Linked DNA regions of Homo sapiens: region 2 is linked to region 1. Evidence: fine-mapped expression QTL. A gene starts in region 1. The other region holds a variant in brackets. All regions are shown on one strand. Distances are from middle to middle.

Region 1 (8,576 bases):
TGCCAGGATCTTGTCTTCAGCTGGTGAGCGGAGATTCCTGGGCCGAAGATAGGTGTAGACAAAAGGTGCATAGTAAAAGATCACTACAGTTAAATGTGTTGAAATGGTGGTGAAGGCCTTTTTTCTCCCCTCCTTTGAGTGCATATGATAGACAGCAAATAGGACTCGGCCACAGGAAGAAGTGATGCCAATGAAAGGGAAAAGGAGAAAGAGGCTTGTACTTACAAAAACCATATATTCATAGACCCAAGTATCTGTACAGGCAAGAAGCAACATGGCTGGGACATCGCAGAAGAAATGGTCAATAGCCCTAGACCTGCAGTAGGGAATATGAAGGGCAAAGACTGTGTGTGCCAAGGAGTTGATGGACCCCAGTGTCCAAGAGCCTCCAATCATCTTCACACACATCATTTTACTCATGCGGATAGGATAATAGAGAGAGTGGCAGATGGCCAAATAACGGTCGTAGGCCATGGAGGTCAGGAGTAAGCCTTCAGAACACGCCATGGTCAGGAAGAAGAAGCTTTGCACACCACATCCCAGGAAGGAGATGCCTTTCTGGCCGGACAGGAAGTTGTACGCCATCTTGGGGACGGTGGTGGAGATGTACATCAGGTCCATAAGGGAGAGCTGGCTGAGAAGAAAGTACATCGGTGTGTGGAGACGAGGATCCACGTGGATGAGGTGAATCATGGCCGAGTTACCCACCGAGGCCAGAAAGAATATGAGGATGATAAGGCACAAGAGAAATATTCCAGTTTGATTTGGGGGAAGCAGACCCAACAAAATGAAATCATTTGAAGTGTGATTCCATTTCTCCATGAAAACTTTCTGCTGTAACTGTTGAAAGAGAAATAGAAACAAAAGCAAAGCACAAAACATGAAATAAAACACAATAGAAAAACAAAAAGGAACTGACTTTATCAATGTTTGTTTAGAATGAGTTGTTTCTCCACTAACACTGCAGGTTTTTTTTAATCAATTTCTATATCTGAAGCATATGGAGATTAGAGAGGATATTCACTTTCTGTTCTTATAGTTTGATTTTCATTACTGTAGATGACAGCAGAGTCAAGCAGCTACAAATCTATTCAACTGGAAAAGCCAGTGTGAGCAGTAGAACAATTGTAATTTATGGCTTAAGCATGTCTTCCAATTTAATTAGATAGAACAACACAATTAAATGTTAATAATTGAGAATAAAGAAATCAAGCAAACAAAAATAAATAATTTTCCCTCCCTGGAAAGTTTGTCTAGCTTTTTATGCCTAGGCTTTTCCTTGGGAATTTTTATTTATGACTTTTAGAATCTCTCTTTTTCTCTTTACACCACCCCAAATCTGGCAGTTTGTTTTTTTCTTCATGCAGTTTCCCAGGTATTCGTAAACTATATTTCTAACATCTGTGTGACTTCTTCCTTTACCTGGGCTTGGAGTGAGAGGTCATGTTTTGTGTGTGCTCTTCTGTCTGAGGCAGACACTGATGTCTCATCCTGCCCAGCATATTGATTTGGTTAGTCATCTTGGGTTACTGATTTTTCAACTTTTGCTGTTCAAAAGCAAATCATAGTTTGTTGCAATTATTCACATTTAGGAACTTAAACTCAACTGTTAGTTCATATAACCTTGGGTAGCATGAATACAATTGTGAAAGAGAGCCTGCCACAGGAAAAAAAATGGAAATTCATTTCTATAGCTGTCTAAGGAATAAACACTAACAATGAAAAGTTGGGAACATGACAGGTGCACAGTAGCATTGGACTTGGATGCCAAATGGGATCACAGGCACTCTCTGCTTCTTATAGTGCTTTAGAAATAAAAACTGATCAGAAAAAAACATGAAAACCATCATTATGATACATTCATTTCCTCAAATAGTGTTCACTGAATTTATGTTTTATGACAGTGCTGCTAGCTACTGATGTGCTTTGGTGATGAAACACAAAGGATTTTAGAATATGTAATTAAAATTGAGATAATTATACAAACAATAGACCAACAAACTCAAACATACAGTGATGTTATGTAGTGATTACGATTCTATAGAAAAATAAAAAAGCAGAGAGATCATTGGATTAAACAAAGGAATTCAAAAAGTATTCCAAACGACTTTTCTAATTTCCAGGGTATGTATGATAAAGATTGATTTTGTAACTCATGTGGCTTCATTCTATCAGTAAGAACTATCCTAGTAATTTAGTTCCAAGCAAATATTTGATTAATTTTATCAGATTAACATGTTGACAGCCTTTGATGCAGTAGTCACTGAGTGAGGCAGTGGGGATAGAATGATTCATCAGGTGCTGTCCCATCCCCAAGTGGGCGACCAACTGTCCTGATGTGCCCAGGCCTTAGGGGATGCCCAACATGTCCTGGAAATTGGAAAAGCCTTTTGTAGTGCTTTCTGAATTCCTTTGTTTAATCCAGGTTTAAATCCAGGGGAAGAAAGCTGCCAGCATGATCCCATGAGGTGTATCCAATACCGAGCCCTGAACAAGCTGACTTGGGTGTAGGTTTATGTGTTCCATCCTGGAGTTGTTTTGAAGAGAGACATTTTGATTCTTTGTTGCATAGACTATAGCTCAGAGTATTATAAAGATTGTTTTATGGCAGTTACTACAATAATGATTTTGTTTCCAAAAATGGAAAAGTGGCATGTTGTTAGGCAATGGAAGAGAATAGTTACTTTTAGGATCCTGTGAATCTGGGACTTGGAGATTTTAGGTCATGGGATATTGGAGTTTGAGTTTAGGATCTATTTCCATTGATGTCCAGCAGCTTTCCTTGTTAGACATGGGACCTTATTTCATGCACCAGAATTACATGAAGCATCATTCTGTCGGTTACCTTATAGCTGGGAAAATGTTGTTCCTGTGGCTATCAGGTGAGTGTGAGATTAGTGACTGCCTTGGCCATCCTTGTTGACTTAAAGAACGACACTAAGGCAAAATTAATACAGAAAGTTTATTTGGGCCAAGGTTGAGGGCTGCAGCCCAGAAACACTTCTGTGGCAAGTAACCTGGAGAACAAGAAGAGACCCAAGTTTTTAAGGTAAAGAAAGGGAGGAATCAGGAGTGGAGACAAATTCTAAAGTTATTTATCAGCAAGTCTCACTGGTTTCAGAAACAACATTGATCAGTGATTGGTTATGCATTATTTAACTATAGGATATGTGGTTTAGGGGATTGATAGGTTAATTCATGGTTAGTTGCCACAAGTCAGTCCAGAGCCCCCATAGCACGTAGATTCAAGAGATGATTACCTAGCTCAAGAAAGAGTGAGATGTGACTGCGGCCACATTTCAATCTTGCTGGGCCTGATAATTTAAAGGGGGCTACTTATTCCTCAGATAAAAAGTTTATTTTCTTTCTCATTCTAAAAGATACGTTGCTGAAATTTATAGAGTTAAAAAACACCTCATTTCACAGAAACTAACAATGTAAGTGTAGCAAGTGTAGGGTCCTGAATTTATTTTGCAAAATTACAATTAGTGAATGCTTCTTAAAACTCTTTTAAACAATCAGCAGGAGACCAATAGCAAATAGTCATAGACTCAGCTCCCTCAATCTCAACAACGTATAGGACAACTATAAAGAGAATTCACAGTTCTGTGTGTTCAGCACATAGTAGGTCCTTAGTAATTGTCACTGTCCTTTGCCCATTCCCTGTGTTAACCATGGAGAGCCCTCACGCCCTGAGAAAATGTTTTTATTAATGTCACATTGTTTGAGAGCTGCACATAGTGCAACTCTAACAAGTTCATGTTACCTTTTTTTACATTTTTAGTTCACTCTTGGTTTTCATTTTTTTTTTTTTTGAGACAGAGTCTCACTGTGTCGCCCAGGCTGGAGTGCAGTGGCCTGATCTTGGCTCACTGCAAGCTCCGCCTCCCGGGTTCACGCCCTTCTCCTGCCTCAGCCTCCCCAGTAGCTGGGACTACAGGCGCCCACCACCACGCCCGGCTAATTTTTATTTTTGTATTTTCAGTAGAGACCGGGTTTCACTGTGTTAGCCAGGATGGTCTCGATCTCCTGACCTCGTGATCTGCCCACCTCGGCCTCCCAAAGTGCTGGGATTACAGGCATGAGCCACCTGGGTGCCCAGCCTTCTTTTTCAATTTGTTATGGAACTGTCTATTCCCTGTGCAGCAGAGAGTTTCCTGATGATAGGAAAACATTTCCAAAAAAGCTTTCTAGGATAAAGCCGACCCAAATCAACTCAATTCAGTTATATTACTATGACTCACTTTGCCCGAAGTTCTTCAGTTTATATAGTGGTATAAAAAGCAGTTTTATGGCCAGGCGCAGTGGCTCAGGTCTGTAAGCCCAGCACTTTGGGAGGCCAAGGCGGGCGGATCACGAGGTCAGGAGTTCGGGACCAGCCTGACCAATATGGTGACACCCCATCTCTACTAAAAACACAAAAATTAGCCAGGCGTGGTGGCATGCGCCTGTGATCCCATCCACTCGGGAGGCTGAGGCAGAAGAATCACTTGAACCTGGGAGGCAGAAGTTGCAGTGAGCTGAGATCGTGACCCTGCACTCCAGCCTGGGTGACATAGTGAGACTCCATCTCAAAAAAAAAAAAAAAAAGCAGCAGCTTTACAGTGACATCATAATCTGCAAACATTCCATATAATTATTTAAAACATGTAAGCATCAAACTATGTTCTGATAGTATATCAGGCTATCAATAACATTATATCACTGATCAATAGGCTCTGCATTAAACCAAAACTCTTTCTGAAGTGAGAATCTCTTCTTTATCTGCCAAAATTCATGAGGAAGAAACACCAGGTAACACTTTATAATATTCATTCCTTACAGCTCCCACAGCTAGTCATTGTCTTTATGGTGAAATCAGAAAACAACTTCACCAGCTCTTGTGAAATATTATCCTGTTTGCATATGCAGTGTTTAGATAAAGTCTCTTCCTTTCCTCTTACCTTGTTTCAGTGAGAACAGAATAAGGCATTTTACACTGAAGTCTCTCAGGTTCCACCATTGGAAGACAGAAGGATGAATGGCTATATTTTACACACAGAACCTTAAGTCACCAACCCTTAGATATTCCTCTTTCTCCTCTAATTGATCTCCAGTGTCCAAGTCCACGGGGGCCAAAACCTTGGTCACTTCACTTGACTTTGCTGATTTGGGGATGAACTCAAATTCTGAACTTAAAGCAAATCAACCAACCCAATCAACTTTGCTGCATTCAGCTGCTACCCAGAATCAGACTAAAGAGGGGTGTATTTAATATTCCAGTACATGATTTCAGAGCTATAGAAGATGTTAAATTATGTTTATGGAAATTCTGTCATCATGTAAGTTAGAGAATTCCGGATTAAAAAAGTGCAGGAACCACTTACAAGTACTCGACTCAGTAATAGCAGAACTAGTCCCAAGGATAGTTTCCTGTCCACTCTTTAGTGAGTTTCCAGGGGGAATGATTGATGATTGTGACTAAATTAAATTATACTAGGATAAAACACTTCCTTCTACTTGTTAGGTGGGGGTAGATAATTGATACATGACAATATATATCCATTTAGCTATTCTACTAAAGTGAAAGCTGACTCTTAGAGACAATGTGATAAAATGAGCATTTAGAGTCAGAGAGAATACTCTAGTCTGACAGCTATGCCACTAATTAGGAAGCTGAGTTGGGAAAATTACTTAAGATTTCAGCCTGTTACTAATCTTTACAACTGGACTAATTTGAGGGACATTCTAATAATTAAATAGAATGATGTATGCCAAATGTTTACATAGTGTCTGTTGCAGAGGAAGGGCTCAATCAACTGTAGCATCTCTTAACCTCTTTAATCCATACATTGGTTAACTAGAAAAGAACACTTTATTTGGGGTTATATTGTTCTTTTTTTATCTTTGAAGGCACTAACTGCTATATTTTATGTCAGAAATTAGAAATAATGCTATAAAATTAATATCCATGTTCTTTGTTTTTTTCCTTTAATTTTTTAGAATTATTATGATTATCTAATGGTTGCATATATTCATGAGGTACATGTGATGTTTCAATACAGGCATTCAATGTGTAATGAGCAAATAAGGGTATTTGGGGTACCTATTACCTCAAGCATTTATTAATTTTTTCTGTTAGAAATGTTCCAATTCCACTTTTAGTTATTTTGAAATATACAATAAATTATTGTTAACTATAGTCATCCTGTTGTGCTACTACATTCTAAGTCTTATTCATCCTAACTGTATTTTTGAGCCCATTAATCATCTCCAGTTTATTCCCCACTCTACTCTACTCTGCCGAGCCTCTGGTAACAGTCATTCTACTATATTTATTATTTTTTAATTTTAGCTCCCACATATGAGCAAGAATGCTCAAAGTTTGTCTTTCTGTGCCTGGCTTATTTCATGTAATATAATGGATAATGAAAATTTACTAGATACATAGAACACTATTCAACCATAAAAAAAAATAAGAGTGAATTCCTTTCATTTGCAACAACATGGATGGAACCGGAACTAAAGTAATGCTGGATTCTTGAATTATCTTGGCACCCTTTGTCCTAGGAGATGATGAGATGAGACTCAATAAATACTGGATGCAAATACGATGAAGTACGAAACTGGACAAAGCCATTCTAGTGCTTTAAATAAGAAGAGTGGACCAGTTATGATCACATACAGATTTTTTATTGCTCTTGTTAGTCTTTGGTAACTTCTATGTTTTTCCCTGCTGCAATGTGGTGCTGCTTGCATTTAACTCAGTGCAAAACTCAAACCCAGGTAAAACTCATTCTCAGCCTGTTACCGTCCCTGTAAGATCCATACACAGCAATGAAACGTGACTTGAGGAAAGTCCAATATATGATGATGCATCTCACCTCAAATTTATGACAATACATCTCAGATTTATGAATACAAATCTCATGGCCCTTTTGCCACGTCACAGTATGTTCTTGTTCTCTGCAGACTTTCTCTGAAAAGTAGTGATCCATGCCTCCTCCTGCTTTCCCCAAACCTTACCCCACTTCCACATCTCTTAGACTCCTCTGGGAAAAATAAACAAACCTGTTAATAAAACAATCAGATTTCAAACTTTTCTTCCATGAACTGTATCAGCCTCCCTCATTCTGTACCATATACTCAGCCTTGTTTCCTGTGACAGCGTATGAAATGACCGTGCTCCTGCCTAAACCCACTCTCTACTTTTGCACAAGGCTCAGCCCCTCTCAGCATCTCCTTTTTACATTTCCATTTCCATCTTCATCTGCACAGAAACATAAATTCTTTAGAGGAAAATATGGCTGTCAAAGATTCAATCATACTCCTTGGAGGCTCTGACCAAAGATTGAGCATCTTTTTCTTTCTGCAGAGATGGAAGTTACTCATTAACAAGTTGGAGCGGTGATGGATATTATAGACAAGGGGTTTCAGTAGGTGCGATCAATTAAAAAAAATCCAGGATGTAATGAATTACTCTGTGATGGTGTCTCCATGAAGCCTGGGAGCTTATAATGAGTTTAGAGATTCTTTACAATTTCTTAGTGACAATAAAGTTTTGGTTTAACCAGTGTAACCCTTCTAAGAAGACTGTGAGGCAGGTATAATTTGTGAAAGTCTGTTTTATAGACCAGAATGTGGTGTACTTTGATGAGTGTGTATTCTAATGTTGTTGAATGGAGTAGTCCACAGATGTGAAATAGATCCAGTTGGTTGATGGTGCTGTTCAGTTATATTCTTACTGTTTTCCTGCCTCTGGATGTATCAGTTACTAACAGAGGGGTGCTGAATATCCAACTTTAATTGCAGATTTATGTATTTCTCTTTTGTTGTCCTATATGTTTTTGCCTCATCTATTTTGACATTATGTTGTTAGGTACATACACATTAAGTATTAATATGTATTATGTAGGAAGTCTTAGCCAGAGCAATTAGGCAAGAGTGAAAAATGAAAAGCATTTAAACAGGAAGGAAGGAAGTCAACATATCTCTCTTTATAGATGATACCATTCTATATCTGGAAAACCCCATAGTCTCTGTCCAAAAGCTCCCTGATTTGATAAATAACTTCAGCAAAGTTTCAGCATACAAAATCAATGTACAAAAGTCAGTGTCATTTCTATACACCAATAGCAGCCAAGGTAAGAGCCAAATCAGGAGCTCAATCCTATTCACTATGGCCATGAAAAGAATACAGCTAATGACGGTGGTGAAAGATCTCTACAATGAGAAATATAAAATGCTGATCAAAGGAATTGGAGAGACACCAACAAATAGAAAAACTTTCCATGTTCATGGATAGGAAGAATCAATATTCTTAAAATGGCCATACTGCCCAAAGCAATTTACAGATTCAATGCTATTCCTAGGTCAAACTATCAATGACATTCCTCACAGGATTAGAGAAAACAATTTTAAAATTCATATGGAATAAAAATAAATAAATAAAACCCAAATAGCCAAGACAATCCTAAGCCAAAAGAACAAAGCTGGAGACATCGCATTACTTGACTTCAAACTATACTACAAGGCTACAATAATCAAAACAGCATGTTAATGGTACAATGACAGATGCATAGACCAACGGAACAGAA
Region 2 (8,576 bases), 160 kb after region 1:
TTCAGGGAGTACATTTGTGGTTTGTTACATGGTTATATTGTGTGATGCTGAGGTTTGGGCTTCTGTTGAACCCTTCACTAAAATAATGAACATAGTACAAATAGGTAGCTTTCCAACCCTTGCCTCCTCCCTCACTCTCCTCTTTTGGAGTCCCCAGTGTCTACTATTCCCATCTTTATGTCCATGTGTACCCAATGTTTAGCTCCCACTTATTTGTTACTCTGTTTTTGCATCAAACAAATATTTCTATGCCCATGTTTATAGCAACATTATTCACAATAGCCCAAAGGCAGAAAGAAAGAAAGTGCTCATCTACAGAAGAATCAATAAAAATGTATGTATATATAGTTTTAAAAAGAGAAGACATTTTGACGCATGCTACAACATGGATGAACCTCGAATATATTATGCTAAGCGAAATAAGTCCGTCACAAAAGACAAATATTGTATGAATTCGCCTACACGAAGTACCCAGAGTAGTGAAATTCATAGAGAGAGGAAGTGGAAGAGTGGACCCCAGGGAATGGGAGAAGGGAGAGAAGGAGAGTAATTGTTTAACAAGAACAAAGTGTTAGTTGGAGACAATGAAACTGTTTTGGATATGCACGATAGGGATGATTGCACAATATAAATGTGCAATGACACAGAACTCTACACTTAAAATGGTTAAAATGGTGTTTCTCTTATATATATTTACCCTAATAAAAATCATTTAAATGCACTGAAACTATTCTAATTTAATTTCCAAATACATTTTTTAAAAATTTTGGCAGGTTTCTGCTTCTCTGCAGAGCAATTTATTTTCAGTTACTTTATGACTTTGGGCAATTTTTTATAGAAAATTTAGAACACCAAATTATTTTCATAAATGTCATTAGGAATCAATAAGAGACTGGGATTAAGACTAATCCAATATTATATAATTTATATTACTAGTTTAATTATTGGCAAGTAGAACATGTAGTACACTGAGTCAGTTTCTCAGACAAGCTCGGTAGCCCCACTGGTTCCGTGGACCCACTGGAATTCAGGATCTAGAAAACATTTTATGTAGAAAACTTGAGGTTTCCTAATATTAAAGATGATATCTAAAGAAGCAATTAAGGGAAATGAGGACCTTGTGACAGGGGCTACATGACTTTTAAGCACTAAGCAGCCACACAAAATAGGTTATTGGGCAAGCTGGTTCATGCTTACTGTATGCTTCTACTAAAAGTTTATGCTTTTGGTTAAAAACCCAGAATTTAGTTTTATTCATTTTGTGAGGATGGTTTCCAGATGATTTGCACCCATGAGTTTGAGACCAGTCTGGGCAACTTATTCCAATTATTTTTAGGCCCAATATGTAAGTGAGATCATGTAGTTTTTTTGTGTATGTGTGTATCTGAAAGCCAGTCTGGATTGAAGGACAGAAAGAAAGGAAACCAAGACTGGTACTGGGAGGCTACAGTCATAGTAACACAATAATTCCCAGTATTTACCAGCTTGTGAGACCAAATGGGAATTAATCATGATTGGGATTCTCACTAGGAAGGCTCCATGCCACAAAATCTGAAACATACAGAAACTTTAAGATGCCGAAGAGAATAAGAGACATTCCTGTATCCCTGCCACACATTGTATTCATTAATGAAATGAAGAGACAGCCTTTGTACACAGCTCTGAGTCACACTCCATCACTAGGTTCTATAGGTACCAATGCTTGTCCATTTGTTTCACAAATTCTTTCATGACAAGGTCTCTCTCTTTCATGACAAGGTCTCTCTCTCTCTCTCTTTTTCTCTATCTCTCTCCATTCGGCGTCTGTCCAAATAGCACCACAGGAATTTGTTGGTTTAATTGAGGAATCAAGACCAAAATCCATCTATTTTTTTCATCTTCCATGTCTATTTCTCCAAGTATCATGCATATAACAAACTTCTTACATATTCCATATCTCCTTTACAATGACCATGTAAATAAATAAATGAGGGGCATGGTAATGCTAGTTCATCAGAAAGTCTAGTATCCATTCACCATTCTTTATATATCTAAACTCTCTTTTGACATGCCTCAGAGAGCAAACCTTTCAATATCTATGATATAACCCAAATACTTACTCCTCTACCTGACTTATAAGTCTCCAAAATTAACAGCAACAAAATAAAATTGATGAGCAGGACCTAACTAAATGAAAGAACTTCTGTGCAGCAAAAGAAACTACCAACAGAGGAAACAGCCAACCTACAGAATAGGAAATAATATTTGCAAACTAAGCATCTGACAAATATCTAATGCCCAGAATATATAGGGAAGTTAAATAAATCAACAAGCAAAAAACAACCCCATTAAAAAATGCACAAAGTACATGAACAGACACATCTCTGAAGAAGACATACAAGTGGCCAACAAGCATACGAAAAAATACTCAGCATCACTAATCATCACAGAAATGCAAATCAAAACCACAATGAGACACCATTTCATACAAGTCACAATGGCTATTACAAAAAATTTAAAAAAAAGCACAGATGTTGATGAAGCTGCAGAGAAAAGGGAATTCTTATATGCTGTTGGTGGGAATGTAAATTAGTCCAGCAGCTATGGAAAGCAGTCTGGAGATTTCTCAAAAAATTTAAAAAGGATACCATTTGACGCAGCAATTCCATTGCTTAGCGCGCGCACACACACACACACACACACACACGCACGTATGCACACACACACACAAAATCATTCTACCAAAAAGGCACATGCATTCATATGTTCATTGCTGCACTATTCACAACAGCAAAGACATACATTCAACCTAGGTGCTCATCAACAGTGAGTTGGATAAGGAATACCTATAGGTTTTCTGTTAAATTCAACCCAAAACTTTGATAACAATTATTGTTACTGTCTTAAAGTTTCCAATTATAGAAGGCAAAGTAACACTTTCACCCATTAAAGCTTGCTATGATACCTTTATATTTTGTTAAATACTTTATGATATTTATTAAATATACAAAATCTAGTTAACTTGATAAAATTAACTTAAAACATTTACCTCATTAAAATGTTTTTCTAGTTTTTCCTATTAATAAAACCATTTAAAAGTATTCCTAATAGAAACATTTATTTTTCTCTTTGCAATAACTTTTAGGATAAATTGTTAGAAGGGTTTGTAAAATATAAGCCTGTATGTATACATGAAATAAGACATAATTTTCAGGATATTCTTAAATATTGTATTCATGCTTCCAACAAAGAATGAGAAACTTGATTTGACTACAATCAATGTATGTAAGTATGTGTATGTATATATGTGTATGTGCATGTATTTTTCACTTGAGGAAACTAAAGTGTCAAAACAAACCATTCAATGAATAATGGTAATTTCAAGTGGAGTTGTAGATTTTTGAAAAGAAACTGATTGTGAGACTTGAAATACAATTTTAGGAAGTTTCATAAAAACACAGATATTATATTAGTACATGTTTTTAATATAATGGTTTGATTGTATTTCAAATGTAATTCTTATATATTCTTACAATTTTAGTGGGAGGGTGGTGGAAGCCTTAGGTTATCTTTGTCTTTCTAGAGTGTGTTGAGTGATTGAAATCGGTACCCACAAGAGGAACAATACATTTTTAGACATGCATTGAAAAAACAAACATATGTAAAAACTTTATTATTATTGGGGTTTTGAAAATATCCACATCTTTCTACACTTAGAAAGA[C/T]AGAAGGTTCGGTTTTCTTTCCAAAGAAACTAACAACACTCTATAGACATTGAATGTGGAAATAGAGGGAATACACAAGTGAAAGGAATTTTCCTATTCTTTTTTTTATGTAGAATGTTGCTCTAGAGCATATTTTTCATTGCCACCAGAACACTGTCAGTGCCAACGCTGTAGACGACAGGATTGAGTGTAAGTGCAAGGAAAGCATAGAATATTTCTAGAAACTTAACCTGGCCTGAAATGTGGATGATTTAAGTCTCATATACATATGTGAAAATGAATGAGTCCCAGTATGTTACAACTGCAATCATGAGGATGGACCAAGTGGAAAATGACCTTTTCCATGCCTGTGATAATTTCATCTAGAGGACACCTCACAGAATTTGGACAGAAGAAGCAGAAATCATAGAGAAAGGAATGAGCAAAAATATGATGCTGCTTACATTAACTCCTCATTCACCCTCTAGTGTTTCTACATAAGAGAATCTGATGTAGATATAAGAATATATATTTCTTTCCTAAAATAAGTTTCAATTTGTTTACTTACTAAGCCAGGTAGCAGTTTATTAAGCAGAATCGATTTACTTAGGCACTATAGAGACTAGTGGCTAATAGCCTCTTAAACTCTCTAAGCGAATACAAAATTTTACCTTATTTTGTCTAATTAATGTCTTGCATCCTTTACTTATAGCATAAGAACTCAATAGAAAAAGCTGCGTTTCTTCTCAAATGAATTGCCACAAAAGTTTAAAGGACATATCCAGCTACCAGCGACCTACAACGGAATGTTCAAAAGACTATGTGTATCTCCACCACAATACCCAGGTATCTGAACACGCACCACTACAAATGCATGTCTTTAGATTGTGATAGGCTTTACCTTTAAGCCTAATTATTTCTATGTGCAGTACTTTAGGTATGTGGTTAATGTTTAAAATATCTTACTTTCCACTTCCAATTTCATCCAAGTATGCTTTACAATCCCACACTGATTGAACCATGCTCTTTACACTCTTTATTAAGAAAAATATATGTGTGTGTGTCAGTGTGTATGTGTGCATGTGTGTGTGGGCATGTTTATTTACATGAAGTCTTCTACTACCCTCAATGTAGGCGTTTCTATGTTTCTATATCCCCAACAGGAAAAAAATGTTTTTTAGCCCTATCACAGATTATTTTTGTATTTTAATCTGGAAATTTGTAAATCTATGAATTCTGACTTCTAAACTTCTATATCATCCTCAGATCTGTTCAGCAGAATGACTTTCTCTTGCTTACAATAATATCTTGCTATTCGGATTTTTACTGTCTCTGATTTCATGCTGCTCTTGGGTCCACATTAGGTATTATTATGAGTTGTAAAAGCAGGCTTTAAAAAAATACAGCACCTGATGCATCTAATATTAACATTAGCACTTCCAGTCAATTTTGAACGTCTCTTAGCAATACATTTTTATATATCATTATATTAGTAATTTTACTCATTCTCTACTGAAATAAAACTCCTTAGCACACCAGGGATAGGAGACTGTTACAGGACTGGAATCAAGTAAAAAAACTCAATTGTCAGGGAAAAAATGTTATTAATATATAATAATTGCTTATTTTATGTCTAAATTATGAACATTAAATAGTTGTATTATTAGAAGATAATTTCATAGTTTATTTAAGGTCCTTAATATATATTGCCACACTGTTCTTTTTAAAATGTTTGTACCATATTTCATGTATGCCTACAATATGTTATGATGTCCAATTCACCAAAATATGGTTAACATTTATTACTATTGTTTTTAATTTTCCAATTGTGAAAGGCTAATCATTTTTCATTAAAGTTTCATATATATCTTCATATTTTGTTAAATATTTATTTCTATAGTATAAAACATTTAGTTGGCATGCTATAATAAAATTAACCTGAACATTTATTTCATTAAAATGTGTTTTTCTAGTTTTTGCTATGAATAACATTACTTAGGGGAGAGGCGCTCAGGGGAGTGGGTCCCAGCGGCAGCTGAGCCTGGGAGAGGAGGCCCCAGAGCCAGCCCCATCCCTGAGCTGCTGATGGGAGGGGAGGAGTCCCCTGAACCAGCCCCGTAGCTGAGGGGTTGATGGAAGAGGAGGCCCCAGAGCCAGCCCCATCCCTGAGCTGCTGATGGGAGGGGAGGAGTCCCCTGAACCAGCCCCGTAGCTGAGGGGTTGATGGAAGAGGAGGCCCCAGAGCCAGCCCCATCCCTGAGCTGCTGATGGGAGGGGAGGAGGGCTGACAGTCGGGAGCAAGAAGGGAGACTGCGGTAACCGCCCCGTCCCCAGGGGGCCTCTCGTCTGATACCTCGGTCTGGAAGGCGTGCCCAGCTGCCCTTCCGCAGGAGACACCAGTGTGTAGAGCAGAGCCCTTCCTTTCGAGAGGGTCTTCACGCTCTCATCGTGGTCGGCGGTCGCGGGAGAGGGGCCCTCCTGGACCCGCAAGCACGCCCACTACTGCCAAAGACGCCGCGGCTGGTCTCGCAGCAGCGCGTCCTCCGGCAGCCCCAGCGAGTGAGCCCGGGGCTCGGGTGCGGAAGATGATAAAGAGGCTCCACCTGGTGGCCGCAGCGGGTCCTGAAGGAGCGCGTCCTCCGGCAGCCCCAGCGAGTGAGCCCAGGGCGCAGGTGCGGAAGATGATAAACAGGCGCCACCTGGTGGCCGGGTCGGTGATTGGCCCCAAGAGCAATAAAGACAAGTGGGAACCTGGGCCAAGGCGCCTGTGGCAAGGGGGTGAGTGCTTGGACCCTGCCAGAAGGACGTCTCGGGTTGCCGGAGGGTCATCTGCAATGTGGGCAAGCACCGGGAGGCGGCACCGCCAAAACTCAACGCTCTCGAAAAAAATAAACGAGAAGGACTAAGAGAACCAGCTGCTGTGCGTCTTGGGGTGTGACTGGTTCACCCTCCGCGGTCCATGCATATCACCTTTGAGCTCCTGGGCAGGAAAACCCTTGAGTTCCCGAAGGAGAATAACATCCAGCCATTCCCCTCCCACATGTCTGGCACATGGCCCACCAGCTCTGCCACACCCTTAGATTTCTGCACGAGAACCGGCTGACCCACGCACACCTGAAAACCGAGAACATCCTGCATGTGGATTCTGAGTTAAACACCGTCTACAGCGAGCACAGGAGCGATGAGAAGTCAGTGAGGAGCACCAGCGTCCGAGTGGCTGACTTCCCCAATGCCACCTCTGACCGTGGGCACCACATCGCCATGGTGACCACGGTCACTGTCGCCTGCCTGAACTGATCCTTGATCTGGGCTGGACACGCCCCTGCCATGTCCAGGGCATGGGCTACCTTCTCTTTAAGTACTACCAGGTTTCACACTCTTCCAGACCTGTGAAAACCAAGAGCGCCTGGTGATGTTGAAGACCCTACGGCTCATCCCATTACGCGTGATCTCCTGTACCAAGAAGCAGAAATATTTCTACAAATGGGGCCTAGTTTGGGATGAGAACAGCTCTGACAGCCCATATGTGAAGAACTGCAAACGTCTGAAGAGTGACATGCTCCAAGACTCTCTGGAGCACGTGCAGCTGTTTGACCTGATGCGGAGGGTGGTAAAATTGGACGCTGCCCAGCACATCACTCTGGCTGAGACTCTTCTGCACCCCGTCTTTGCTGGCCTGGCAACCTCAGTCGTGGTCCTTCCACACAAGCCACAACCCAAGCAGATGACAGACGCAGGACACTGCATGAGGAGAGCGGAACTGGGCTGCCCAATCCCCATTCTCCAGCCCCTACCACCAGGTCCCAGGACCAGAACCACACAATGAGCAGTGCAATGTGAAGGAAGGCAGGAGCCTGCGGGGGAGCAGACTTGGTGCCCAGCTGCCAGAAGGCAGATTTGACTCAAGCTGTTCATACGTGTTTTTTGTTTTTGTTTTTGTTTTGTTTTTTGTTTGTTTTTTTGAGATGGAGTCTAGCTCTGTGGCCCAGGCTGGAGTGCGGTGGCGCCATCTTGGCTCACTGCAAGCTCCGCCTCCCGGGTTCCCGCCATTCTCCTGCCTCAGCCTCCCGAGTAGCTGGGACTACAGGCGCCCGCCACCACGCCCGGCTAATTTTTTTGTATTTTTAGTAGAGACGGGGTTTCACCGTGTTAGTCAGGATGGTCTCGATCTGCTGACCTCGTGATCCGCCCACCTAGGCCTCCGAAAGTGTTGGGATTACAGGCGTGATCCACCGCGCCTGGCCCATACATTTTAAACTTACAAAGTGTGTCTTAGTGTTTGTAAAAAAAAAAAAAAAAAAAAGGAAAAAAATTAAATGAATTCTCAATAGAAATATTTATTATCTTCTTTGAAATAACTATTAGGATAAATTGCTAGAAGAGTTTGTAAAACATCATCCTGTATGTATAAATGAAATAAGGCAATTTTTATGATATTCCTATCTAATATTGTATAGTTGCTTCTAGCATAGGATGAGTAATTCAATTTTAACACAACTTATATCTGTATATATGTGTGTACATATATATGTGTGTGTGCATATATATGTGTATCTGTAAAATTTTACTAAATAAAGGTGTTGATAAACCAGGCAAAGAATAATGATTTCATATGGAATTTGTGAATTTTTGATAAGTGATTGTTAGCAATATAATTTAACAAAGTTTTATAAAAATAAACATGGATTTGTCTTTTATACAATGGATGTGTGACTGTATTTTTAGGGATATTCTCATAAGTCTTACAATTTTGGTGTTAGGGAATAGGACGCCTTGGGTAACTTCTACTTCCTGTAACTGTTGCATGATTATAATTGGTACCACAGAAGGAACACTACATTTTTAGAGGTACGTGTTTACAACACAAACACATATTATTGTTTATTATTAACAATG

Evidence for each region.
Region 2: its variant is fine-mapped to the expression of OR2L13 in pituitary (GTEx, PIP above 0.99). The same link has a PIP of 0.9 or more in amygdala, anterior cingulate cortex, breast, caudate, cerebellar hemisphere and cerebellum.

What each region holds. Positions count from the first base shown.
Region 1 is chr1:248,091,622-248,100,197 of GRCh38, reverse strand. OR2L13 (olfactory receptor family 2 subfamily L member 13) reads right to left here and starts at 5,014. Exons shown (of 3, transcript NM_001395936.1): 1 at 4,944-5,014; 2 at 1,423-1,547; 3 at 1-840. The coding sequence starts at 822. LOC105373275 (a long non-coding RNA gene) reads left to right here and starts at 4,656. Exons shown (of 4, transcript XR_949369.3): 1 at 4,656-4,794.
Region 2 is chr1:247,934,842-247,943,417 of GRCh38, reverse strand. It overlaps OR2AJ1 (olfactory receptor family 2 subfamily AJ member 1), which reads right to left. Exons shown (of 2, transcript NM_001355235.2): 2 at 8,079-8,576. It also overlaps the pseudogene CLK3P2, a transcript of OR2L13 not described here and the pseudogene OR2X1P. Among named protein-coding and RNA genes, the nearest start is that of OR2L8, 9.7 kb to the left of the region's middle. The variant C/T (reference allele first, on the strand shown) is at 3,702.